Homo sapiens: one gene and its partners. The protein of the gene in region 1 purifies or fractionates together with the protein of each later gene. This does not show direct contact. Each region holds a gene or a part of one and is shown on either strand. Other genes may lie near its edges.

Region 1 (2,956 bases):
AAATTTTGGCAGCATGATCAGAACATTAGATGGCTTATCATTATCAGACTTTATATCTGATTATAAAGATTAGGAATTTCTACTTCAGGAAAGGAATGAATGGGATTGAAAAGGATTGAAATCTTCAAAATAATGAATATCTGAAAGCTCTTGCATTATTTTGAAGCTTATTTTTTCTATAAATCTTAGCAATTGAAACTAACAGTTGCTGGGTATGGCAACTCATGCCTGTAATTCCAGCACTTTGGGAGGTCGAGGCGGGTGGATCATCTGAGGTCAGGAGTTTGAGCCCAGCCTGGCCAACGTGGCAAAACCCCATCTGTACTAAAAATAACAAAAATTAATTTGATGTGGTGGCAGGTGCCTGTAATCCTAGCAACTCCGGAGGCTGGGCAGGAGAATCACTTGAACCCAGGAGGCGGAAGTTGCGGTGAACCGAGATCGCACCATTGCATTCCAGCCTGGGCAACAAGAGCAAAACTCCGTCTCAAACAAACAAACAAACAAAAAACAAAAAAAAACAACTAAAGGACACTACCTGATTTATTATTTTGGGGCAAGTACATGTTTTGTTTTTATATTACTGGGAATGATTATGTAGACTTTGTTATTCTAAGAGTTTAGAAATATAAATAACTTTAAAAAATACTTTGTAAATTATAGAAGGTATTTTATTTTATCTTATTTATTTATTTATTTATTTGAGATGGAGTTTCGCTCTTATTGTCCAGGTTGGAGTGCAATGATGCAACCTTGGCTCATTGCAACCTCTGCCTCCCGGGTCCAAACTATTCTTCTCTACTCCCGAGTAGCTGGGATTACAGGCACCCGCCACCATACCTGGCTAATTTTTTGTGTTTTTAGTAGAGACGGGATTTCACCCTGTTGGTCAGGCTGGTCTTGAACTCCTGACCTCAGGTGATCCACCTGCCTCGGCCTCCCTAAGTGCTGGGATTACAGGCGTGAGCCACCATGCCCGGCCAGAAGGTATTTTAAATTTATAGGTGAAGCTAAAGTTGTTTGGGTTACCTTATATGACCTTTTTAAGGTTGGGATTGGATTCTTTTCCAACAGAACACTTGATTATCATTAGAAATAGTTCAGCATTGTCCCCAGCTCATGAAAGGGTTGTGTCGAGAAGATGAGGCACATGTTTCCCATGAAAATGATGCAGAAACTTCAGCAGGTAGAGGGCAAGTAGTTGGTTGAGGCCTGAAGGATGACATACAAGGTCAGAGACTTGGGTTGTGGAAAGTATAATGGAGGCTACAAGAGTTGATGAAAGGAGCAGTGACGGTTTTGTCTTCCTCTTCTCTTTTAATGTTTGCTTAGGTGTAAGAAACAGGGAGGGTGATTAGGTGGAGAGGAGTGGATAGCAGAAGCAGAAAGGCAGGATTTTTCCTTCGCCTTTGTTACTGTCTTTTTGACAGCAGATTAAGATCTGTATCAGAAAGGGAAGAAATCCCTAACAGCACTGGGAAGGGAAAGGGACTTCTTAAGGTTCGTAGGAAGCCCTCGGTGTTATAAGTCTGCAGAATATGTGTCAGTAAGGGACAGATATTCTCTGTGCTAAAAGTTGGTCACATATGAAGAACGGCCTTAATACAAAAAAGTGGTGGTGGGTGCCTGTAATTCCAGCTGCTTGGGAGGCTGAGGCAGGAGAATTGCTTGAACCTGGGAGGCAGAGGTTGCAGTGAGCTGAGATCACGCCATTGCACTCCAGCCTAGGCGACAGAACAAGACTCTGTCTCAGAAAAAAAAAAAAAAGAAAAGAAAAATGGCCTTAAGTGAATTGCCATTGCTGACTTGGCTGGGCCATTAGTCTGACTCCATATGAGATTTTTGAGTTCTTCAGCTCTGCTTCTTGGTTCTAAATACCACTGCCCAGCTGCATACGGTGGTTCACACCTATAATCCCAGCACTTTGAGAGGCTGAGGCAGGTAGATTGCTTGAGACCAGGAGTTTGAGACCAGGCTGGGCAACATAGTGAGACCCCCATCTCTACAAAAATATAAAAATAAGCCACACATGGTAGCCCAGCTACTCAGGAAGCTGAGGTGGGAGGATCCTTTGAGCCTAGGAGGTGGAGGCTACAGTGAGCTATGATCACACCACTCCACTCCAGCCTGGGAGACAGAGCGAGACCCTGTCTCAAAAAAAAATTACCACTGCCACTGTGTCATAATTTAGAAGGATTCATGTTCTCTGCCTCCAAGCAGAAAAGCCGGTTACCTACTATCAAGACTGCATTTAAGGGATATATTAGGAACTTCTAAGCCGGAAAACCAATGTATTTGAAATGACAATTTATTTCTGCCTGAACCTACACTGTCTAGGAATCTGTTCCTGGAATCCTCAGGGTATACAGATTTCTTCTCAAATCAGAGCTGTAAAAACTACCCATTCACCATTTGGGAAACACCTTTCTTCCACTTCTTATTGGAAGCCCTGGTGGTCATGTTGATCCTCTGCTATGTTTTTCTCCCAAAGCCAAATAATCCTCTTTACAGACTTGGGGTTTCATGGACTTCCTCATCACCCTTAGGTGATTGCATACTCGGAACATCGTTACCGTATCTTTGGGGAAACCATCGATATTGCAGTGGGTAATTGTCTGGATCGTTTTGCTCGAGTGCTGAAGGTAAGCCAGTGGGGCTGCAGAGAACATAAAATGTGGGTGAATTTTTGGGAAGCCATGGAGGTGGAGGGAGGAAATAGTAAATGAGCTTCTTATGCTTCCTGCATATCTGATTTCATCCTCTTCCATTCCCTCCTTCCTTATTTTTTTCTTCTGCTAGATTTCTAACGACCCAAGTCCAGGATACAACATTGAACAGATGGCAAAGCGGTAAGGGGACATAAGGTGGAAGCAGGCTGGCTGCTGGGGCTTCAGGGATTTCCCCATATACGGTATATATTAACAAAATTTGGGACGGGCTTTGGAGGGTGAGAAGC
Region 2 (3,500 bases), on another chromosome or scaffold:
ATCTTTAAATAAGAGTTTGCTGCAAGCAATTCTGCTAAATTAATGACCAAGCAAAAAAGCCTCCACTCTCATAACTTTTATATTATAGATTACCAAATTTAAGAGAAAAATAATTCTTTTGTTCAAACAAACAGGAAAAAACCCAATTATTTTCTACTTTTACATCTGCCAGAATCTTAAGCAGTTTATGTTTGGGAATAAGCTATTTTCTGGTCCTACTATTCTATATACACTACTTTTTGATAAAATAAGAGTCAAGCTCATTGCCTAGAGTTTGACATTTTAATTTTTATGAAACACCAAAGTGCGTAACTTTTCCATCACCCCATTTTGAAAAAGCAACCACATTTTTTTTTACAAATGCCGCAGTAACAAAATACCCACTGTAAATGGCCTGATGACAAGAGAAAGCTGTGCCTCCAGTAGCACACAGCATCAATTTGCTGTGACCTGGGGTGATGGTGAAAACATTTATTTCAATCCATGTTTTATTCACTCTTCAAGAAGCAAGTGGCCTTTGCTCAGGGGAAAACTGTTTAGGCAATTTTTAGAATAACAACTTCTGTATCAGGCTTAAGAAAGCCACTGATATCATAGAGTGGAATTTCTCTGGCAGCAGAATCAAAAGGCACTTGGAAGATGAAATAATTCTCAATAATAATCTAAGACATTCTGCTAAGGAATGGACAGATTCATAATTAAATTTAAAGGCCAGGCATGGTGGCTCACGTCTGTAATCCCACCACTTTGGGAGGCTGAGGTGGGCAGATTACTTGAGCTCAGGAGTTTGAGACCAGCCTGGCCAACAAAGCAAAACCCGGTCTCTACTAAAAATTAAAAAATTAGCCTGGCATAGTGGCTTACACCTGTGGTCCCAGCTACTTGGAAGGCTGAGGCAGGATTATCACTTGAGCCCAGGAGGTGGGGATTGCAGTGAGCTGAGATGGCACCACTGCACTCCAACCTGGGTGGCACAGCAAGATCTCATCTCAAAAATAAATAAACATAAAATAAAATTTAAAGTGCAAACAAGGAATCTATGTTTACTTTGTCAATTTCTGGGCAGCAAAAATAGCATGTTTTAGAAAAAAATATAAAACCTTTAAGAATTTACTAGCCTAAAATTAGAAACCATAATTAATTAACCTTAAGAAATCCCTATTTTGGCCAGGCACAGTGGCTCACGCCTGTAATCCCAGAACTTTGGGAAAGACAGGTGGATCACCTGAGGTCAGGAGTTCGAGACCAGCCTGACCAGCCTGGCCAACATTGTGAAACCCTATCTCTACTAAAAATACAAAATTAGCTGGGCATGGTGGCACGTGCCTGTAGTCCCAGCTACTCAGGAGGCTGAGACAGGAGAATCATTTGAACCCAGGAGGTGGAGGTTGCAGTGAGCCAAGATCACGCCATTGCACTCCACCCTGGGCAACAAGAGTGGAACTCCGTCTCAAAAAAAAAAAAAAAAAATCCATATTTTGCTAAGATTCTGATGCCAGATAAATCATTTCTCAAAATTATGAAAACATTGATTTGAATTTCAGAATATGCCTTTTACAGTTGTTCAGTTATAGACTATAAAATGTCATCATAATCCTAGGGATGTCAGCAAAATGAATTAATGAGAGAAATAAACTGTAGGCTATTAACTTTACAAAAATAAAAACAAAACATTATTTATAGGAATTTTTTCTTATAAGCACAATAATTTGAAGGAGATATAATCCCACCTCTGTTGCATTTTTAACTATTTAAACATCTAGGATATACTATGACAACAAAACAGCAAAATCTTGTAACTAGAAAAAAAGTTACAGAGAAAAAAAGTAATATACTAATGGCTTGTTATTCTTGTGACAGATATTAAAAATATATGGTGGTTAAAAACAGATGACAGTTAATTGAGTGCTGACATTAAGAACACTTGGAATGGAGTTACACATATTAAATATGTGTACAAACAGACATCAACAGGCTGTCATTTCCTGTTATAGAACCATGAAATTAAGCACATTTATAAAACCAAAAACCTGGAAAGTCTTTAAAGGCTAGTTTCAAAATCTCAATTAATCAAAATCTTCCAGATGGCAATTCTTTTACAATTATTCAATAAGCTGTAACAGTATAGGACAAATAAAATCAAACTATAAACGGCACATGGCACCAACTCACACAGCATGCTCTGTGATGCCTTAACGCTCGCAGCTCTATGGAGCGTACAGTAACGTAGTGAATACAAGTGCTTTCCAGAGCACAATAACAATTACAGCCTTATTTTAAAACTGCAAACATCTCATGAAAAAGCTTTAATGCTGATGATGCTTAAATTCTTTGGAATATTACTACATACCTTTTCTGAATCATGGTTAATCATTTTCACATCAAGTAATGATTTGATTGTTTTTGTCAGTTCCTTTTCATTCATCTGAGTGCTGTCCTGAAGCTCTTTATAACTGACAGTTTCACTGTTGTTAAAGGCAAGAAGAACTGCCATTTGGTATGTTGTAACCATGGCTACATATGGTTTGCCCAAATAGTTCATTTTAACTTCACCTACAATTAAAACAAAAACTGACAGTGAATTGACCATTCAAAGAAACATTTCAAATTTACTTTATTTCAGACATTTTCTTCGGAAAGAGTGAACCAATAATTTTATTAAATTGTTGTAAAGCCACTGCTGTTAACAAGGTAGTCATTTTGTTTCTTGGGGAGGTGAGGATGGAAGTCTATTAGTTTTGAGTATATGGTATAAATCAGTAAAACTATCATAACTTCACCAGTAGGTTAAAACAGTCTTTAAGGCCAGGCGCAGCGGCTCACGCCTGTAATCCCAGCACTGTGGGAGGCCGAGGCAGACAGATCACTTTAGGTCAGGAGCTCGAGACCAGCCTGGTCAACATAGTAAAACCCCATCTTTACTAAAAGTACAAAAATTAGCCAGGCATGGTGGCTCATGCTTGTAATCCTAGCCACTTGGGAGGCTGAGGCAGGAAAATCACTTGAACCTGGGAGGCGGAGGTTGCAGCAAGCCAAGATCACACCACTGCACTCCAGCACGGGTGACAGAGCGAGACTCTGTCTCAAAAAAAAAAAAAAAACAAAAAAAAAAGTCTTTAAATATTAATAGAAATGCTAAGACTTAGGCAGAAAAAGAAAAGAACAAAAAACCCAAACAATAAAAGGAGGTGGGAGAAGGAGAAATGGACAGACAAAGGGCAAAGTGATATCAGCAACAGCCTCAAGTGCTGTCGATAGCTGGGCTCTCCCAGGTAAGGTTCAAGCCTCCTGGGAGGTCCACAGCCACATGGAAAATGCTTTTGAGGCCCTGTCTAAGCTGTAATTTCTGCCAAAATTAATGCTATTATGTCTCATAAACAACATTTTTCTTTCCAGTAACTTCCTAGAGGCAAACAGGTATGAAAGGAGAGACAAACAGGCAGACCCATTCTCTTGCTGAAAGTTGATAGCAAAAGAATCTGAATGTTTTCATAAAAATG
Region 3 (3,500 bases), on another chromosome or scaffold:
CCTCCTGGGTTCAAGCGATTCTCCTGCCCCAGCCTCCCAAGTAGCTGGGATTACAGGCACGCACCACTATGCCCAGTTAATTTTTGTATTTTTAGTAGAGATGGCGTTTCACTATGTTGGTCAGGCTGGTCTCGAACTCTTGACCTCGTGATCCGCCCACCTCGGCCTCCCAGAAGTGCTGGGATTACAGGCCTGAACCACCACTTCCAGCCGCCCAATTCCTAATTAGAGCCTACAAGGCACCAATATTACTTACTCGACCTCATCTTCTGTTGCTCTCTCCTCAACCACACTGGCTTCCTTGCTTATTCTTTAATATACCAAGCTTGTTCCTAACTTAAGACCTTTACACTGGCTACTCCCTTTATCTGGAATACCATTCTCCTATATACCCTGGCTAACTCACTTACCCTGTCTGTTTAAACATCACCTTCTCACAACCTATGTACAATTACAACCTCCCACTCCCCGTTAACCTGATTTATTTTGCCTTTAGCATCTACAGCTGATCCATGAATAACAACAAGTTTGAACCACACAGGTCCACTTATACACGATTTTTGTCAATAAATCTTTCCTGCCTCCCCTTGCACCTCTTCTGTCTCTGCCACCCGAGACAGCAAGACCAACCCCTCCTCTTCTTCGTCGGTGTGAAGACAATGACGATGAAGATCTTTATGATGATCTACATCCACTTAAGGTATAGTAAATGTATTTTCTCTTATGATTTTTTATTTTTTTTTGAGACGGAGTCTCGCTCTGTCGCCCAGGCTGGAGTGCAGTGGCACGATCTCCACTCACTGCAAGCTCTGCCTCAAGGGTTCACGTCATTCTCCTGCCTCAGCCTCCTGAGTAGCTGGGACTACAGGCACCCGCCACCACGCCCGGCTAATTTTTTGTATTTTTAGTAGAGACGGAGTTTCACTGTGTTAGCCAGGATGGTCTCGATCTCCTGACCTTGTGATCTGCCCGCCTCCGCCTCCCAAAGTGCTGAGATTACAGGCGTGAGCCACCGCGCCCGGCCATGATTTTCTTAACAGTATTTCCTCTAGCTTACTTTATTGTTAAGAATATAGTATATAATACATATTATGTTATCAGTAAGGCTTCTGGTCAACAGTAGGCTATTAGAAGTTAAGTATTTTGGGTGGTAGTTAAGTTTGCACGTGAGTAGGGAGGGTTGGTGCCCCTAACCCCTGCATTGCTCATGGGTCAACTGGATCACTCACCTTCTAACAAACCATTTAATTAACTCTGTAACTGCTTATTGTATTAGCCTTTTCAGTCTCCTTCTGCTGGCTCCTCCATAAAAACTTAATTAACTTAATTAACTCACTAAATTAAAAACTTAATTTTTTTGGTCTGTTTTTCCCTGTTAGAATATATACACTCCATGGCAGTAGGATTTTTTGTTTACTGATCTATCCTACTTTCCTACTTAGAATAATGACTAGCATATAGTAGATACTTAATAAGATCTGAAGGAAAACAATTATTTTTATTCTCTTTATCCATAGCAACAGTAAGAAAATTTTTGATTTAACATAATATCACAGAAATACACATATGCATATCCTGCATAAAAACTCACCTCTACAATCTTCTCTCTGTTTTTGGTTGGGTTCATAGGAGGTTCTGTGAGTAAGATTTTACAATTTCTGGTATCTATATTAAGTTTCTCTGGTCCAAATGTGTAGTCCCACAGGTGTTTCATGTCATCCCAATTTCGTACTATGCCATTTTCCATAGGGTAGTTAACTTCTAACATTGATCGTAATTCACTTGCCTCATCACCAACCATAAGATCCTAGAAAATTATGTCAAAGCTGTAGATCAAAGTTTTGCATAATATTTAAGAAAACTTGGGAATAATTAATTTTAATATTTCTGACACTTGCAAAATAAATCTTTTTATTCCACAAGTTAGAAAATCTTTTCTATCAAGAACAATGTCTTAGAAAGTTTAATCATGGATAATACATTTTTACATACAATGTGGTTTAAATCAATAAATTGACCTTACCTTTAACACAAATGTTTCCAAAAGAAGAGCATTAGCACAAATAAACCCCACATTTTCATATTTTGGAGGGTTTTGTATGAGGTTTCATCTGTTTCTTTTGCTCAATTGTTCAAAAAATAAGGCCTGTGATATGTGAAATAGCACATCAGGGGGAAAAAAACTTGTAGAAAAATGCTCAATGCATGCAGCACATTTCTTTGCACTAAATATCAAAATGATAAATGTAAGTACTATAAAGCATAATGAAAGAAGCAAAAAATAAAATGATTCTTTATTACTCTATAATAATGCATACATACACCAACTAATAAATAGCACAAACTTCTATCTACATATGCCTGAATAAGAATTTAAACTGTTTCTACATATGCCTCACCAAGGTGAATGAGAATTTGTAGAGTTATAAAAAATTAAGATATAGGCAAATAACCCATCCTTTAAAATTGTCTCCTGAGCAACATTTTCAATCTTAAAGTATACTGGAAAACTACACCATCACACATGAAGCATAATACTCACAAGTCTTGTCTCCAATGAGAGCATACTTAAGATGACCCACATTTGAAAGTCACATTTTCTATATATAATAAGTAAGGATGTCCTAGCATTTAGACTTATTTTTAGAGAACAGCTAGTCAAGAGGTTAAATAATACTAATTTCTACATATGTTGATAAATTCAATTAAAAAAACTAGTATCAGAAGTAGATATTTGCTACAATACGTTAAGTTTTAATTATGGAGAGACAAAAAAAAGCAGCAGCAAAATTAACACGAGATTATTTTTTTGAGACTGAGTCTCGCTCTACTGCCCAGGCTAGAGCGCAGTGGCATGATCTCAGCTCACTACAACCTCTGCCTCCCAGGTTCAAGCGATTCTCCTGCCTCAGCCTCCTGAGTAGCTGGGATTACAGGCACCTGCCACCACGCCTGGCTAATTTTTGTATTTTTAGTAGAGATGGGGTTTCACCATGTTGGCCAAGCTGGTCTCAAACTCCTGACCTCAAGTAATTCACCCATCTCGGCCTCCCAAAGTGTTGGGATTACAGGCATGAGCCACCACACCTGGCCAACATGAGATGTTTTAAAACAAAGGCTTAAAAATATATGAGTTTTAAATTAAAAAAAAAAGAAAAAGAAAATATCAGAGATGAAACCAAGGTGAGGACTCTAACAAAAAACCAAACAGATCTCTGGAAAATCCACTAAAAGCATCAAAAAGTATAACAAAGTTAAAAACAGATGCTAGAAATGCTCAGTAAAAATTTGTTGCAATTTCTTATGAAGTTCATTTACCATAACTTACTAACTTATTACTCAAATATCTGAAATATTAAATGTTTACACTCTTTTTTTTTTTTTTTTTTGAGATGGGGTCTCACTCTGTCACCCAAGCTGGAGTGCAGTGGTGCCATTATTGCTTACCACAGCCTCAACCTCCCCAGGCTCAGGTGATCCTCCCACCTTAGCCTCCCAAG
Region 4 (3,500 bases), about 76 Mb from region 1:
CTAGAGACCTAGCCTAGATCAGGTACATAAACTAGACTTTTTATGTAATTGTTGAATGTTAATTTATGAGTATACACTGAATCCAATAACTGTTGCACTGTACTGCCAGATTCTAAAAACTGAAAATGTTTAGTTCTAATCAACAATAAAAATATTTGACTTTGTACTTTTTAAGGGCAGATGTATACTTGATCTCTCTGTTCTCCTTCAGCCTTATGTCATCCCAAAATTCTATGCTTTAAATAAAGCTCCTTGATTATTAAGCAGAAAACATTTCCAAGTGGGTAAATTCATGTTTCACTCTAGTTTCCAAATATACTGCACCATAATCAAGCATGGCTGCAAAAACATAGACAAGAAACCTTGCTTCATTCCACTGTTCATCAATTCCTGTAGGTTTTTACCAAAAAGAATATTTCTTAGGAACCTAAATACAAACATATATTAAACTGATTAAACCTACCCCTTTCCAAAAGAGATCTGAGTCTGATATATACACAGAAAATATACTTCACACTTTCAAAAATTATGACAAACGAAAAGAGAGGAAACAAATGTACTAATTATTAAAATTAACAGTTTCTAGAACTAAGCATCATATTTAGTTTTGAGCCTCCTGACATCCAGAGCAAAAAAAGACATCTGGGTTATAGATCTTGCTGAAAAACAGAGGCAGCAAGCTAGTTTCTCAAAGGAGAAAGCTTTTCATTGCAGGGAGCCCCCAACTTCTCATCCAGCAGAGCTCTGCTTTTATCTGTTTTCAGTGACAGCATTTACAAATTATATGAAGAAAATGTTCTGCAGTTTAAAAGAAAAGCTTGAAAAAAAACTGGTCTGGTCCAGTTCTTTCACTTTACAAAAAAAAAAAAAGCTAACAAAATTAATAACTCACTTCAGTTACATGGCTATCAAGCAGCTCATGATCTTACCTAACCTTAACTTTTATTAATTTCTTTTTAATACAAAGAATAACCCTGTGTCAGCAATGAGTGTACAAAAAGTAGTAAACTAATGAAATAAATCTCCTAATAGTTCAACTTGTTCAACTTAGTATTCATTTTTTTCCCCTAAATGAAGCTTTATACATGTCAGGGATGATCCAACAGGAAATTTCCAGCCTTCTGAACTATCCAAGGACACCACAGAATTATAAGGTCACAGATGTTAGCTCTGCAGCAGACTGACCTACTCAGCTGTAAAGTCAGCCAACCTGCAGAAACTACATTTTCTCCAGCATGTAAGTCCAAACAACAAAGGGATTTGCAAAGGAAGGTAGGGGCGGGGACAGGGGGATGGGGGTTGGGCGGAGGGAGGTGGTTGCTCTGGACAAGTTCTCACATAGCAGCAGAGATCTTTACTTCTCAATCACCAAAATTTTAGAGAAAAACACTATACAAGCTACCTATAAATATTAACGCAGAGAAATCTATCCTGAGCAATAAGAAACATGCTGCTTGTTTATGCATGTATGCAAAGAGTAAGTTTACTATAATACCTTACTAAAAAATTCCACTCAGGCTTCCATTTTACCCTCTTCATTTCAAACAGATACAGTTTTCAGCACACTTGTTGACCACAAAACTGGAGCAGATGCAATTAAGATAAAACTTATCAAAGAAAAAAAAGTATATGTAGATGCATGTATATAATTTCAGATTCTATGATGAAATTACAGAGACCTGCTATTTGGCAAAGTTAAATTTTTGGTCCAATTTCAAAATTCCTATCTCCTTTGTTAATTGAAAAGATAAAAACTTTTCAATGTGCTGCGTCTGATTTTAAAGAGAGAAAAATTTGTTTTAACGCTTTTTCTCAGTTTGGAATACGAGATTTCCAAATAAATCTATTAGAATTTGCAAAGTTAATGACAGTAAAAATGGTTAATAATGTAAAAAAAATTTTTCTTCTAAAAGTTGTTTTCCTTCCTCATATAAAAATAGCTAACACATTGTATTAAATAATTTCAGATTATAAGGGAAATCAGTAAGTTTATCAGTAAGTTAATTATCAAAAATAATCAATAGCAAATCAGTAAGTTAATGCATACCTGTAAAATCTAAAGTGATGCCAGAAGTTCTTTACATGCTTGTATAATACTTCTACCATAAAGTTCATTATTTAACATTTCTCTCCAAACAATTAATCCCCTTATATGCTGATATATAGCTTTATATAATATTTCTTCACAGAGCAAAATAATGTTCAAATGGTAAAATGCACCACACCAACAAACAAGGAAATTTTCAAATGGTAATTTTTCAAATGCCCGTTTTCAACTGGTAAATACTCTGACCATATCCACAAATAAGAAACAACCAAGACAAGATGAACCCTAAGTGGTGACTTGGGAGAAAAGAACATATAAATTATGAATTCAGTGCACCATCAAAATTTCCCTGTCAGATATCAGTATTCCAAGTTAAAATCAGTTCAGGAATTTAGTAACTTGCTACTAAACATAAGAAATATATAAATATTTATTTTTCTACAACCCTCTACACATTTTCTGTATTACAAAAAATGTTTGCCTTAATTGCCATGCAATCTGTTATTGTTCTTCATTGAACTACTGCTATACTTTCTTTTAGTATTTATTGCAATTATAAACACAAGAAGACCAAAGAATAATTTAATAACAAAATTCACCTTTGTTATTGTTTTTGCTTTCAAACCTCCATTCTCCACAACACTGAGGTCCAATTTGCCATCATCCTTACTTCCTATAGCTTTTAGTCCTTGCAAAAGAATGTCACGTAAATTTTCATAAAGAGGTTTTTCAGTGTAGTCTAGTAATTTCACTGTTTCCATGTATTTGGCAATTTCACCTAAAAGAATAACACAATCATTTTATAACTTTCAATATATTTCTCTCTAACCTCTAAAAAAAATAATTCATGGTTATAGTAAAGTTAGAATGCAAATACACATCTTGTTAAGATACCTATTTTTTTCAATCACTTCAATGAAAAGTATGCTTTTGAACTCAGGAATTGTCAGATAACTGAAATTTAAAAAGTATTTTGAGATACAATGTAAAACACACTTTTTGTAATTGTGAGAAACAAGACAACTTAAAATGTAAATACTCATAAAAATAACTATTATAGTATTAAAGTTATAAAAAAATACAAAGGGATCTAGAATAAAGATTAGAAAGTAAAATGTCCTTAAATACAATGAATATCATAGCCAATATGTTTTTGCCATCAAAGCCATTAGCTCTATAGCAGATAGCTATATTCTTCGTGTAAATGAGAAATAAAACACACCAAAAAGAGGCCAAAGAAAGAAGAAAGAAATAAGATCTGGCTTTCCTATAAAAGAGAAAAATCAGCTTCCAAATGATAAAAGTGTACTGTACACTTAGACAGAACCACACCATAAAAAAGAAATCCTACTAGTCAAGATCAACACTTCTCAATATTAAAAATTCATTTTTGAGCTAATGACTCACACACAGACCTTTCCCCCGACCTCCAGACTTGTATATCCATCATTTC
Region 5 (3,500 bases), on another chromosome or scaffold:
GAAAGCAAGGAAAAAGGTTTGGGCCCATGCTTGGGCTGAAGTAATTAAGGAAGAGGCTTCTGGAAGGAAGGGGGCAGTGACAACAAAAACCGAGCGACATCTCCAGTGAGAAGGACAGTTCAGGGGACAGAGGGAGGGCACTTTGGTGCCTTACGCCATGCCCACACTGCACAGGGTCTCTTACACTAGAACAGAGTAACAACAAAAAACCCTCAGCACACGGGGCCAGGACCCCCAACCCACTGGAGGCTTTTGCTCCCAGAGCTGGCCTCTGCCTCAATACCTTGCATGTCATCCAACAGAAGGCTGCTTTTCCCCTGTGGCTGACTGGGGAAAGCTTTTGGACCAGGCAGCCAGGACTTGTTAAAGTACCTAGTAACCTTGATTCTACTATTCTGGCCAGTTTCCAAAATACTCAAAAGCAATCTGTAAAAATGTTGAACGCTAAGCAGAATGAGCTGATGCAAATTTCGCAACTCAGCTCTGGCAGTTTTGTTTACCGAGATGGCAGCTCAGCGCAGCCCAACGGGGAGGCCCAGTCACAGGCACAGAAAGCAAAGGGTCCAAACGTGGTAAAGTATGAGGCCCTCCTGGGGTTTGCCATACATAGAGAGACCAGGCCTCACCCAAGAAAAGCTGAATCGAGCTCTCTGCCATGTCCATGTAGCTCACGGGCTTCACAGGTGACTGTGATACACAGCCAGGTTAGGAAACACCAGCCTAGCACAATCCCACTGAGAATTCCAGGTCCCTCCCACTGGGCCAGGTCCTCACATGTGCCTTCCTGGACATTTTCCCTTGCAGCACAGTTCACACTGGATCGAAAGTAGAACAGTAACAGCTGTATCTTTTACACATTTTTGTCCCATGCAATGTGTTTTATTACATCTGTGAGTTCACTGGTGGGTATTACTTTATCTCCATTTTACAGAGACCACAGGATCTGAGAAACAGACCAAAAGACATGCAGTAAATGAAGGCAGAACAGGAACAGGAACTCTGGTCTGAAAGATCTGGAGTATGTCCCCTACAAACTGTCCATTGTATGCCTGTCCTAGAGGGCCTTTGCTTTCTGGAACTTTTAAAAGTCGATTCAAGGACTGATGCAAGGACAAGGCTTACCTATTCCTAACAGACCTAACTGTGAAAGAAAGGACTGGTCAGACTAGTCGTAAGATGCCAACTAGTGGGACAATCAGCTAGACTAGTAGTTCTCATGACATTTGTCAGCAATTTCTCTAGAGAAATAAAATTTAAAAGTGCTTGTGTTTTTATTTCTAAGATAAGCTTTAAAAGCAGTTGAATATGCATGTTCTGAAGGAGGTGGAAAACTACCTTAAACCCTCTGGTGCACAGTGGCTTCAATATTTCAATATCACAGAGAGTCTGAGAACTGGAGTTCAAATCTGGGCTTAAGCACTTCCCACTGTATGAGCTCAGGTACCATCTGGGCCTCAGAAACCAGGCCTTACCACCAGCTCCACCTACCTACCTCACGTGGTTGGGGAGGTGAAATGAGTTTCTGCTGTCAGCTGGAATCCCACTTGACAGCAATTTTTAAAGGGCATCAAGGATAGCATGGCCAGGAAAAGAGACAATCACAGGCTCAGAGATGTCAATAATGTTTTGGAAATGGGAGAGCTGATGGTCGAGTGCTCTCTGACTTAACCAGTGAAGAAAGCTGAACTCAAAGTGCACAAGGAGGAGGTCATCCAGAATCAACTCAGTCCCCACCCCAGAACCTTGGTCAGAGTGGGGAACTGGAGGCCCGAGGGGTTACTCTGAGTGCAGGACTTCAGGGTGGGGCTGAGAACAGAACTGAGTGAGCAGTCAGATACAAAGACACCTTCCACCCCCAGCTGTTTAGTTTTACTCTCGGTAGAGCCACCCCAACCCGTCTTTCTCTCACATCTCCAACAGCAAATTGGAATGGCTCGATCTTCAAATACATCCAGAAAGAGCTGCATCCCTCACCTCTTCGACCCCATCTCCCACCATCACTCCCTGCACTCCAGCCACGCTGGCCTCTGCTTTTACTTGAATGTGCTGAGCACATGCCTACCTCTGGCCTTTGCACAGGGTGTTCTGTCCTCCAGGAGCACCTTCCCTTCCCTCAGGTACCCTCACAGCGATTTCTCCCTGCTTTCACCTCCTGCTCAGATGCCACCGTCCCTGACCACTGCCCATCTCCCTTATCCCGCTTTATCTTTCTCCAAAGTGCTTTTCGTCACCCAACATACTATGTATGTTTACCACTTGATGCCCCCACTGGAATGTCAGCTCCTCAGAGGCAGTGATTTTTGTCTATTCTGTTCATTGCAGTATCCTGAGAGCCCAGAATAGTACCAAGGACAAAGTGGGTGTTCAATATTTGTTGAAAAAAATGAATGGAGAAACAACTCTGGATTAGGGCTTGAAGACCCAAGTGTAAGAATTAAAGAGGAGAGAAACACGAAGGGTGGCTTTTCAGTCAACAGGGACAGGTTTATTTTAAACAAACCTGAGAGGGGCTGCTGGCTGAGTTAGGTCAGAGCCACACTCTCTTACAGACTAAGAGTTTTTAAGGATTCAGGGTGGGAGAGCTTATCAGTGGCTTGGACTGCTTCTGTGTCTCTTTGTTGTGCTTATCTGGGAGGCAGACTGGTGTGTCTGTTTCCATACATCTTTCTGCAGCTGCAGGCATATCCCCCCAAGACTGCTTTTAGCTTCCCTATCTTAGTACACCTGAAGGGAAAGGAATGTGCTTATTAAGGCCCACAGTTTTACTGGGGCCCATTGTATGAGGGTGAAGTTTGGCAGTCACCCAAGAGACTTTCCCCCCACCTCCCTCTGTGTCCCAGCTGTCTTGTCTGTGTTTTACTGTCTGCTCTTTCTGGCTGCTTGTAGTTAGAAGAGAAGTGACTTCCTTGAAATGCATGAGGCTAGAAAGGGAGCTGGAACTTAATGTGCCAGTGTTTGTCCGAGATGACGCTACTCCTGCTCTGTCACCCAGTCCCAGCAGAAAGCAGGAAGACAGAATGGTTATCACCATTAAGTGAGTGAGACCAAAAAATCCCTTGGATGAGTAGTTTGATTTCCCCCATGAAAGGGGAGGATCTTTATACACCAGAATCTCTCAGCTCATCCACCCCAGAAGGAATGCCCCTGTGTCCTGCAGAGGAAGCAGTTTATTGTCTCCCATGGATGCTGACTCCCCAGGGTCATGTTTGAGAATGGCAACCTGCACTAAGGACTTATTTTCTTTCGTTTTTGGCTAAGTTGATTCAATACACCTGTGATACAATTCCAACCACTACTTTCTGAAGCTCAACCCAAGAAAGAGATCTAAAGCCAGAGGGAGTGGTGCCTGTGGTGTATTTTGAGTGAGGTAAGGGGTTTCTAAGAGTTTGATAAATCTGACTGCTAAGGACTTTCATGTTTAGAATCTAACCCCTTTGAAAGATACAACTCCCCCATACAGAATCAAGTGTCTGTGAAGAATACACAAATGGCTTTCAGAC
Region 6 (3,500 bases), on another chromosome or scaffold:
AAGTGATCCTCCAGCCACAGCCTCCCAAAGTGTTGGAATTACAGGTGTGAGCCACTGTGTCCAGCCTCTGGTGTAATTTTAAGGAGCCCTCCCCAACCCTCTCTTCCCCTTTTCCTTTTAAAAACAAATCTCCCCACATACCATAAAGAGACAGAGAAGGCCAGGTGCGGTGGCTCACGACTGTAATCCCAGCACTTTGGGAGGCCGAGGCAGGCGGATCACGAGGTCAGGAGTTTGAGACCTGACCAACATGGTGAAAACCCCATCTCTACTAAAAATACAAAAACCAGCTGGGTGTGGTGGTGTGTACCTGTAATCCCAGCTACTTTAGGAGGCCAAGGCAGAAGAATTGCTTGAACCTGGGAGGCGGAGGTTGCAGTGAGCCAAGATCGTGCCACTGCACTCCAGCCTGGGTGACACAGCAAGACTCTGTCTCAAAAAAAAAAAAAGAAAGAGACAGAGAAATCAACTTACCGATGTAAACAGCAACCTGCTGCAGAAGCCAGAGATACGTCATCATTTGCTCTGCTAAAGGCTCGTAAAAATATCATTGCAGTACACTGTGTTTTCTGCATATAAAACTGTCATCATGCAAGGGCTATTTTATTGTTTCAGGAATCTGAAAAATGCATTTTGGAATATGAAACACAAAATATAATTATAGCTTTGATTAGCAAAATGCACAAGGGAGCTTGAACTGTAATGTTTAATCACTTGCTGGGCACTCTCTGCATGTCCACGGTACACTCTACTCCTGGTGGGTCAGCTCAGGGATACAGCACGTCTCACTTCTCACATGAACTGTGTGCCCAGCCCTCTCGGTGGCCAGACCATGTGAGTGTCTTGAACAAAAGGGGCCGTGTGTCTTGTTCCTCTGCAGCTCCCAGCCCAAAGCACAATGCCTGGCACACACCATAAATGCACAAGTGCATGCTGCATGAATGAACGAGTAAGTGAAGAAAAGCTGGCAGTTTCCTGCTGATATAATGGAGAAACAGAAGGACTTTTGGGTTGTGGCTGGGCACGGTGGTTGACCCCTGTAATCCCAGCACTTTGGGAGACCGAGGCAGGCAGATCACTTGAGGCCAGGAGTTCGAGACCAGCCTGGGCAACATGGAGAAACCCCATCTCTACCAAAAATACAAAAATTAGCCAGGTGTGGTGGCACACGACCTGTATAGTCCCAGCTACTTGAGAGGCTGAAGCATGAGAATCACTTGAACCAAGGAGACAGAGGTTGCAGTAAGCCAAGATTGTGCCACTGCACTCCAGCCTGGGCAGCAGGGCAAGACTCTATCCCCCCGCCCCCAGACCTCCGAAAAAACAAACAAACAAAAACAAACAAAACAACCTACTGTGTTGTAACTACATAGGAGTTACTTAGTCCAATGACATGGCTGAGGTCGTAGTGGGAAAGACTGGCTCATGGAGGACCTGATAAGCACCAAAACCAGATCTAGCCAAACAAGGCCTTTGGGATGAATTCAAGTCCTGGCCCTGCCACAGTCAGCTGAGGAATGCTGGGGGAAATTACTTAACCTTCTGAACCTCAGCTTCTTCATCTGTAAAATTCATCTACTCAACAGAGTGGAGCAAAGTGAGCAAGGTGGAGAAGAAGTGAGAGAGGGGGCCTGAAAACCACAGGTGGCACAGAGAGCTGGCTTTCCTCCAGGAATCCTTTCTCCCCTGCCTGGCCACGGACATTTCCCAGCATCCCTTGCAGCTAGGTAAGGTCATGTGACTGCATTCTGGCCAATGAAAGAGCACAAATAACTTGTACCATTTCTGAGCCCGTCCAGCAGCCCATTTTCCATACCCTGGTTGGCTTCCTCTCCACTGTGATCCTGCCCAGAACAGATTGGTAGCATTTCAGTATCACTTACAAAGCACTTGCTACATAACTCCTCCCAGCTCCCTAGAAGGCAGGCACTCCTTCCTCCTCGGGCTCTGAACATGCTATGCCCTCTGTCTGGTACACACCCCAGCCTGTCCTCCCTACTCATCCCCTGGCCAACTTGACTGCTCATCCCTCAGGTCTCAGCTTAGATATCACCTCCTTCATGAAGCCTCCCCTGAACCCCAGGAGTTAGTCGCTCTTAGCTTCATTCTACAGATGAGAAAACTAAGGAACAGAGAGGTTATGTGACTTATCCCAAATCACATGACTAGAGTTGGGTTTGAAGCTGGTGCGGGCTGAATCCAGAGCTTTCAATGCAGTCATCACTTCCTTAACCAGCGCTTCTAAAAGTATGGGACCAGCTGCCGCAGCAGCCACTGCAGCAGCCTCACCTGGCAACTTGCTGGTAATGCAAATTCTCAAGCCTCACTACAGACCTACTAAATTAAACTCTGGGGATGGGTCCAGCAATCAAAGTGTAAGCAAGTCCTGCTGGGGATGCTGATGTGCACTGAAGTTAGAGAAACGCTGGCCTAGGGCAATTTTCCGCAGTTTAGCCACCTACTTCCGGGTGCTTCCTCTGGCTTGCTAGTCCTTGCTAGAGCTCGAAAGCTTCACAGCTGGAGAACAGAACGCCATCCACCTTCTGACTCTGGAGCCATTTGAGACGCTTCTCTAGGAGTCCCACAGCCCTGGGACTTTGGGGGTTGTGGGGAGCACTGTTATTTTCTGCTTTATCATCAGCGTGTTAGTGACTCACTCCTTCCTTTGTCTGAAGCCTTCTTATATGGTTGGGCACGGCTCATGCCTGTGATCCTAACACTTTGGGAGGCCCAGACAGAAGAATCGCTTGAGCCCAGAGTTCAAGCCCAGCCTGGGCAACAGAGTGAGACCCCATCTCTACACTAAAATTAAAAGTTAGCCAGCCATGGTGGTAGCTCATGTCTGTAGTCCCAGCTACTTGGGAGGCTGAGGCAGGAGGATCACTTGAGCCGAGGAGTTCCAGGCTGCAGTGAGCTGTGACTGTGCCACTGCACCGCAGCCTGGGTGACAGAGCAAGACCCTGTCTCAAAACAACAACAAAAAAGAAGCCTCCTTGCTTGTGCTCATCAGCCTTGGCTGCAAGAATTTGATCCAGCAACACTTTAAGGCCCAAGCCGCTTTCATCCCAGGTGGAGACAAGGTCATCGCTCTAACCACCTTCTAGGAGCCTTCTCAGTTCATCAGGGTAATAACCTGCAGCTTTCAGGTCAGCAGAACCAATCTCCCTCAACAAAAAACACTGATTCTTTTAAATTAGTTCAACCTGCCGCTATTACTTTGTCTATAGCCCTGATCATTCAGTTGTTCTGCTTCAGGTGTAAGAACTGGACCAGAAATAGTGAATCCCGGAGAACGAGCTTGAACAAGTCCAAGCTTCTGCTGTTCACCCTTGGCTTTCTTCACACAGCTCCCAGAGTCCCGGCAACCAGACGACAACCCTGCCAAAAACTGGACAAGACTGCTTTGGGGACTCTCCCCACAGCAAGATAACAACCCTAAAGACATCCTTCCCGGGTGGGCATGGTGGCTCATGCCTGTAATCCCAGCACTTTGGGAGGCG
Region 7 (4,122 bases), on another chromosome or scaffold:
TTATCTCAGAATCCACCACTAGATTTAGCACGTTATATTAGTTCCCAACTTTTTTAATTTTTAGAGACAGCGTCTCCCTCTGTTGCCCAGGCTGAAGTGTAGTAGCACAATCATAGCTCACTGCAGCCTCAAACTCTTGGGCTCAAGTGATCTTCCCAGCTCAGCCTACCAAGCAGATAGGACTACAGGTGTGTACCCCCAAGCCCAGTTAATTTTTAAAGTTTTTGTAGAGACAGAGTCCCACTGTGTTGCCCAGGTTGGTCTTGAATGCCTAGCCTCAAGTGATCCTCCCGCTTTGGCCTCCCAAAGTGTTGGGATTATAGGCATGAGCTATGGCACCCAACCCTTAAAAATTTTTTTGATAAGCTAAAACTCCAGCCATCCCCATCCTTATCCCTGTGCTCCCTCCCCAGACTCACAGAGGCCAGTACAATCCTGAAGTTGGTATGTAACATTTTCAAGCATGTTCTACATTTACATATATATGTATATATGTATATGTATATATGTATACATGTACATGTATATATATGTATATGTATATATATGTGTGTGTGTGTGTGTGTGTTAACAGGAAAGATACCATTTTATGTCTATTAAAGCATTTCCTAAGAGGCATCATATTGCCTATCCTTCTGCAACTTACTTTTTTCACTCAGTATCCTGTTGCCATGTTGATATTTGATATCTTTCATTCAATACCAACAATAACAAGCGTTTTCCCCTCTTGTTTTGCCAGGCCCAGAGACGGAAAGTACAAAGACTAGTAAAATACATCCTTGCCCTTAAGGAGCTAAGTACCCAAAACCTGTAATCCATCTTGAGTCACCAGAGTACGGTTGCTCAGAAACAGCAGTGGTGCGGTGGAAAGGGCATCAACCCTGCGATCCGGACAAGTCACTCCATCCCTCTGATCATGCGTGCCCACCTACCACATGAGGATATCACTTCATAGACTTGCTGGAAGGGTTCATTGTGTTAGCCTGTTCCCTGAGCTCTCTTCGTGATCAAGAAGACTGATCAGATAAATCAAGAGACTTGCCCAAAATTACCTAGGAAATCTGTAGCAGCAGCAGAACCAAACTCCGGTCCTTGCTAAATCTAGATACCAGGCTAGCTTTTCTATGGACCCAGAATTAACCCATACAAATGTACAAGCTTTTCCAGACCAGCTGGGGTGAGATGAATGAAAATGGCAGCAACATCAATACCTCAGCTTCTTCAGCAACTTCATCAAGTAAGGCTGCCATGAGGAAGTGGGCCTAAAGGAGAGTTTTCTAGAACAAAGAAGGGGGCAAAGGAGTGGCTTGAAACTGCAAAAAGTGCAGACAAAAAAAAAAAAAAAAAGAATGAAATCTGGAGAGGATGTGAGGAGAGGTCTAGCAAAATGATTAAAAATTTGGACTTAGCATCAAAGTCAAACAGATCCATATTCAAATCGTGGCTCTTCCATGTCTTCACTATGTAACCCCGAGGGAGCCAATTTAACTCTCTTGGACTCCTCCTTTCTAAGCATTTTATCCACAGGGCCATAATAAAGATCAAAGGAGATCGTGTCTAAAATGTCTAGCACATGGTAAATCACTCAAGAGATGCTAGCCAAGAAAAGGAAAAAAAGGAAGGCGGCAAAGGGAAATAGGTACTGAACGGTGACTCACAGAAACCAGGATCCAAGGCTCCTTTCAAAAGTCAAGGCTTTAACCAATGAGGGTTTCTGATTAAGTCACCCTGGAGAAGGGGCTTTGGGCAAAGGTCTGCGGTATGCTGACGAAAGCTGGACGCTGGGAGAACTGGTAAGAATATGCTATTCTTCTGTTTCAAACTCTCCAGTAGCTTCCCATCCAGCAGCTTTCATGCCAAGCTTCCAGTTTGGCATGAAATCCGAACTCCTTAGCAGAGTTTACAACACCTCCACAATAAATAAGGGTCTGCCTTCCTAACTGACCTCATGTCTTCCTATTCCCTGCCCTGGCTCACTATGCTTTGACCCCTGAAACACACCATGTTTATATCGTCTTGGAGGGGGGGCCTTTCTCATTGCAGTTCACTTCAGGACCGAAAACCTTGTGCGCTTGGCTTCTCATCATTTAGACATCACCTCAAATATCACTTCTTTACAGATGTTGCCCTTGATCTCCCACTCCAGTCAACTCTATCACATCACCCTATTTGTCTTCTTCCTAACCCTGATTATCCCACAGGTCTCGTTTACTTACTGACTCGCTTAAGACTCACGTCCTCCCCACCGCCCCCACAAGAATGCGCTGTCCTTGAGAGAAGGGACTTTTTGTGTCTTGTTACACAGGCGGTATATAACAGCTACTCAACAAATACTAACTGAAAAATGAATTGCTGCGGGGGAGGAGGGTTTAGCTTTCTTCTCAGGGCTCAGAACGAGGCCTAAATAACTTAGGATGGGGGCCAACAGGGCAGTTAACAAGCAGGTGGAAAGAAAGGGCCGAGGAAGTTTCTGGTAGGATGCCGGAGTCGGAAGGGGCTGGAAGGGTGGGAGGGCCGGGCAGGACTGCTGGCCGCCGCGCGAGGCCCGGGCGGTGGTTGCGGGAGTTGGAGGAGCAGGCCCGGAGGTGAGATGGGGGCCGGGGTCGTACCTTGCGCCTGCAGCACCCGCAGCGCGCGGCCGTAGAGCGCGGAGGCCTCGGCGTACTGGCCGTTGCGGAAACTCTCATTGCCGGCGGCGCGGAGCTCCTCCACAGAGTCTGGGAATTTGGGGGCCATCCCGTGGCCAGGCCGGCGAGTTGGGAGCTCCTTCCTTCCTCCCCCGTGTGGTGCGGCACACCTTCCGGGCGCAAGCGCCGGCGGCGAATATCTCCGCCCAACAGCGAACCCGCGGCGAGGGGGCGGGGCCTGCGAGACCTGGAGGCCCGGAGCGTCCCGCCCTCTGCGCGTGCTCGGTTTGGAACTTAGGCTCCCTTGCACGCGGGGCGGCAGCATGCTCTGGGCTCCCTGAGTTGCTAGAACGCCGTGGATGACGCAGGGAAGGAGGCTGGCCCCGCTATCAGGGAGATTATGTCCTAGTGGGGTCCCCACAGGCAATTAACTGATAAGCAAACGAAGACTCTCATTTCATGTGATTAGTGCTGTAAGGAAAACAAAACAGGATAATGCAATGGAAAGTGACCACGTGTGGGCTATTTTAAATAAGGGGATGAAGGAAGGCCTTTCTCAGGGGGTAATAGTTGAGCTGAGACCAGACAAGATTTAGGGAATGCTGTTCCAGCCAGAGGGATGGTAAGTGCAAAGGTTCCAAGGCTAGAAAGTACCTGGTACCTAGTGCTCTATAGATATTTATTTAATAAATTAATGCACAGGTGGATTGATGGTGTCAAAGTCAACATATAGAGATGAATCTCTAAAGTTTAAATATTTTATTTGGCAATCAAGAATTGCAATTCAGGGCTTACACACAGACCAGGTTGTCTTTGGTATGTCAGAAGAACAAAGAGAAGGTTTGGAGATTTTTATAAAACAGAAATGTTACATATTGCTCTTCAAGGAAGTTTACAGGCACTAGTAAAGTGGGGGTTTATCAGCTTCTTGGGGAGCTGGCAAGCTTTGATTGGTAAGTGATAGTGGTGGATAAAACTCAGAATTGTAGCAGGCTGTTTCAGTAGCTATTAGATAAAACTGGTTTTAGGTTACAGCAGGCAGTTTTAGCAGCCAGGCTTGCAAAAAATTACTTTTTTGGAGCAATGTTATATGCCCTGAGTATTTGTTCCCCTGGCTTTTCAATTCTGTCTTAGTTGGATATGACAAGAATGACCCAATTCGTATGATCAGCTTTCAGAATGGATGAAGATCTTTCACAGAGTGTGACTTCAATTTATCTCCAGCCTCATCTGACGACTCTATGTCCCACGCATTGCTATCTACACACACTAAATTCTTGCTTCCTAGCCTTTGCTTGTTATCTCCTTCTCCTGGATTTTTTTTTCTAAATACTTTTTCTCCTGCCTAATCCTGAATTAACTTATAACATTCCATTCAAACATCATCTTCTCTGAAAGCCTTTCCTGCTTCCAGCCCCCTCCCCACCCCCCACTATGCTCCCTTTGCTCCCTATTGGTCTCTAGCTTTATCCCTAACTTTGCATTAGTCACCCTT

What was found.
Region 2: the proteins of OSGEP (region 1) and CUL2 purify together in Homo sapiens (affinity purification with western blotting; 2 studies listed by BioGRID, with this or other methods). This does not show direct contact.
Region 3: the proteins of OSGEP (region 1) and ACTR2 fractionate together in Homo sapiens (co-fractionation; one large-scale study listed by BioGRID). This does not show direct contact.
Region 4: the proteins of OSGEP (region 1) and VRK1 purify together in Homo sapiens (affinity purification with mass spectrometry; one large-scale study listed by BioGRID and IntAct). This does not show direct contact.
Region 5: the proteins of OSGEP (region 1) and CHCHD4 purify together in Homo sapiens (co-immunoprecipitation; one large-scale study listed by IntAct). This does not show direct contact.
Region 6: the proteins of OSGEP (region 1) and EEF2K fractionate together in Homo sapiens (co-fractionation; one large-scale study listed by BioGRID). This does not show direct contact.
Region 7: the proteins of OSGEP (region 1) and TOMM34 purify together in Homo sapiens (affinity purification with mass spectrometry; one large-scale study listed by BioGRID and IntAct). This does not show direct contact.

Annotation. Positions count from the first base shown.
Region 1 is NC_000014.9:20,448,857-20,451,812, reverse strand, and holds part of OSGEP (tRNA N6-adenosine threonylcarbamoyltransferase), read left to right. Parts: intron 1-2,546; coding exon 2,547-2,642; intron 2,643-2,799; coding exon 2,800-2,849; intron 2,850-2,956. UniProt on the Homo sapiens protein: Component of the EKC/KEOPS complex that is required for the formation of a threonylcarbamoyl group on adenosine at position 37 (t(6)A37) in tRNAs that read codons beginning with adenine.
Region 2 is NC_000010.11:35,013,842-35,017,341, forward strand, and holds part of CUL2 (cullin-2), read right to left. Parts: intron 2,554-3,500; coding exon 2,351-2,553; intron 1-2,350.
Region 3 is NC_000002.12:65,244,831-65,248,330, reverse strand, and holds part of ACTR2 (actin-related protein 2), read right to left. Parts: intron 1,808-3,500; coding exon 1,592-1,807; intron 1-1,591. UniProt on the Homo sapiens protein: ATP-binding component of the Arp2/3 complex, a multiprotein complex that mediates actin polymerization upon stimulation by nucleation-promoting factor (NPF).
Region 4 is NC_000014.9:96,859,882-96,863,381, reverse strand, and holds part of VRK1 (serine/threonine-protein kinase VRK1), read right to left. Parts: intron 2,826-3,500; coding exon 2,647-2,825; intron 1-2,646. UniProt on the Homo sapiens protein: Serine/threonine kinase involved in the regulation of key cellular processes including the cell cycle, nuclear condensation, transcription regulation, and DNA damage response.
Region 5 is NC_000003.12:14,118,371-14,121,870, forward strand, and holds part of CHCHD4 (mitochondrial intermembrane space import and assembly protein 40), read right to left. Parts: intron 1-3,500.
Region 6 is NC_000016.10:22,209,278-22,212,777, reverse strand, and holds part of EEF2K (eukaryotic elongation factor 2 kinase), read right to left. Parts: intron 1-3,500. UniProt on the Homo sapiens protein: Threonine kinase that regulates protein synthesis by controlling the rate of peptide chain elongation.
Region 7 is NC_000020.11:44,957,598-44,961,719, forward strand, and holds the start of TOMM34 (mitochondrial import receptor subunit TOM34), read right to left. Parts: upstream 2,801-4,122; 5' UTR 2,737-2,800; coding exon 2,610-2,736; intron 1,941-2,609; exon of another isoform or gene 740-1,940; intron 711-739; exon of another isoform or gene 696-710; coding exon of another isoform or gene 647-695; intron 1-646. UniProt on the Homo sapiens protein: Plays a role in the import of cytosolically synthesized preproteins into mitochondria. Binds the mature portion of precursor proteins. Interacts with cellular components, and possesses weak ATPase activity.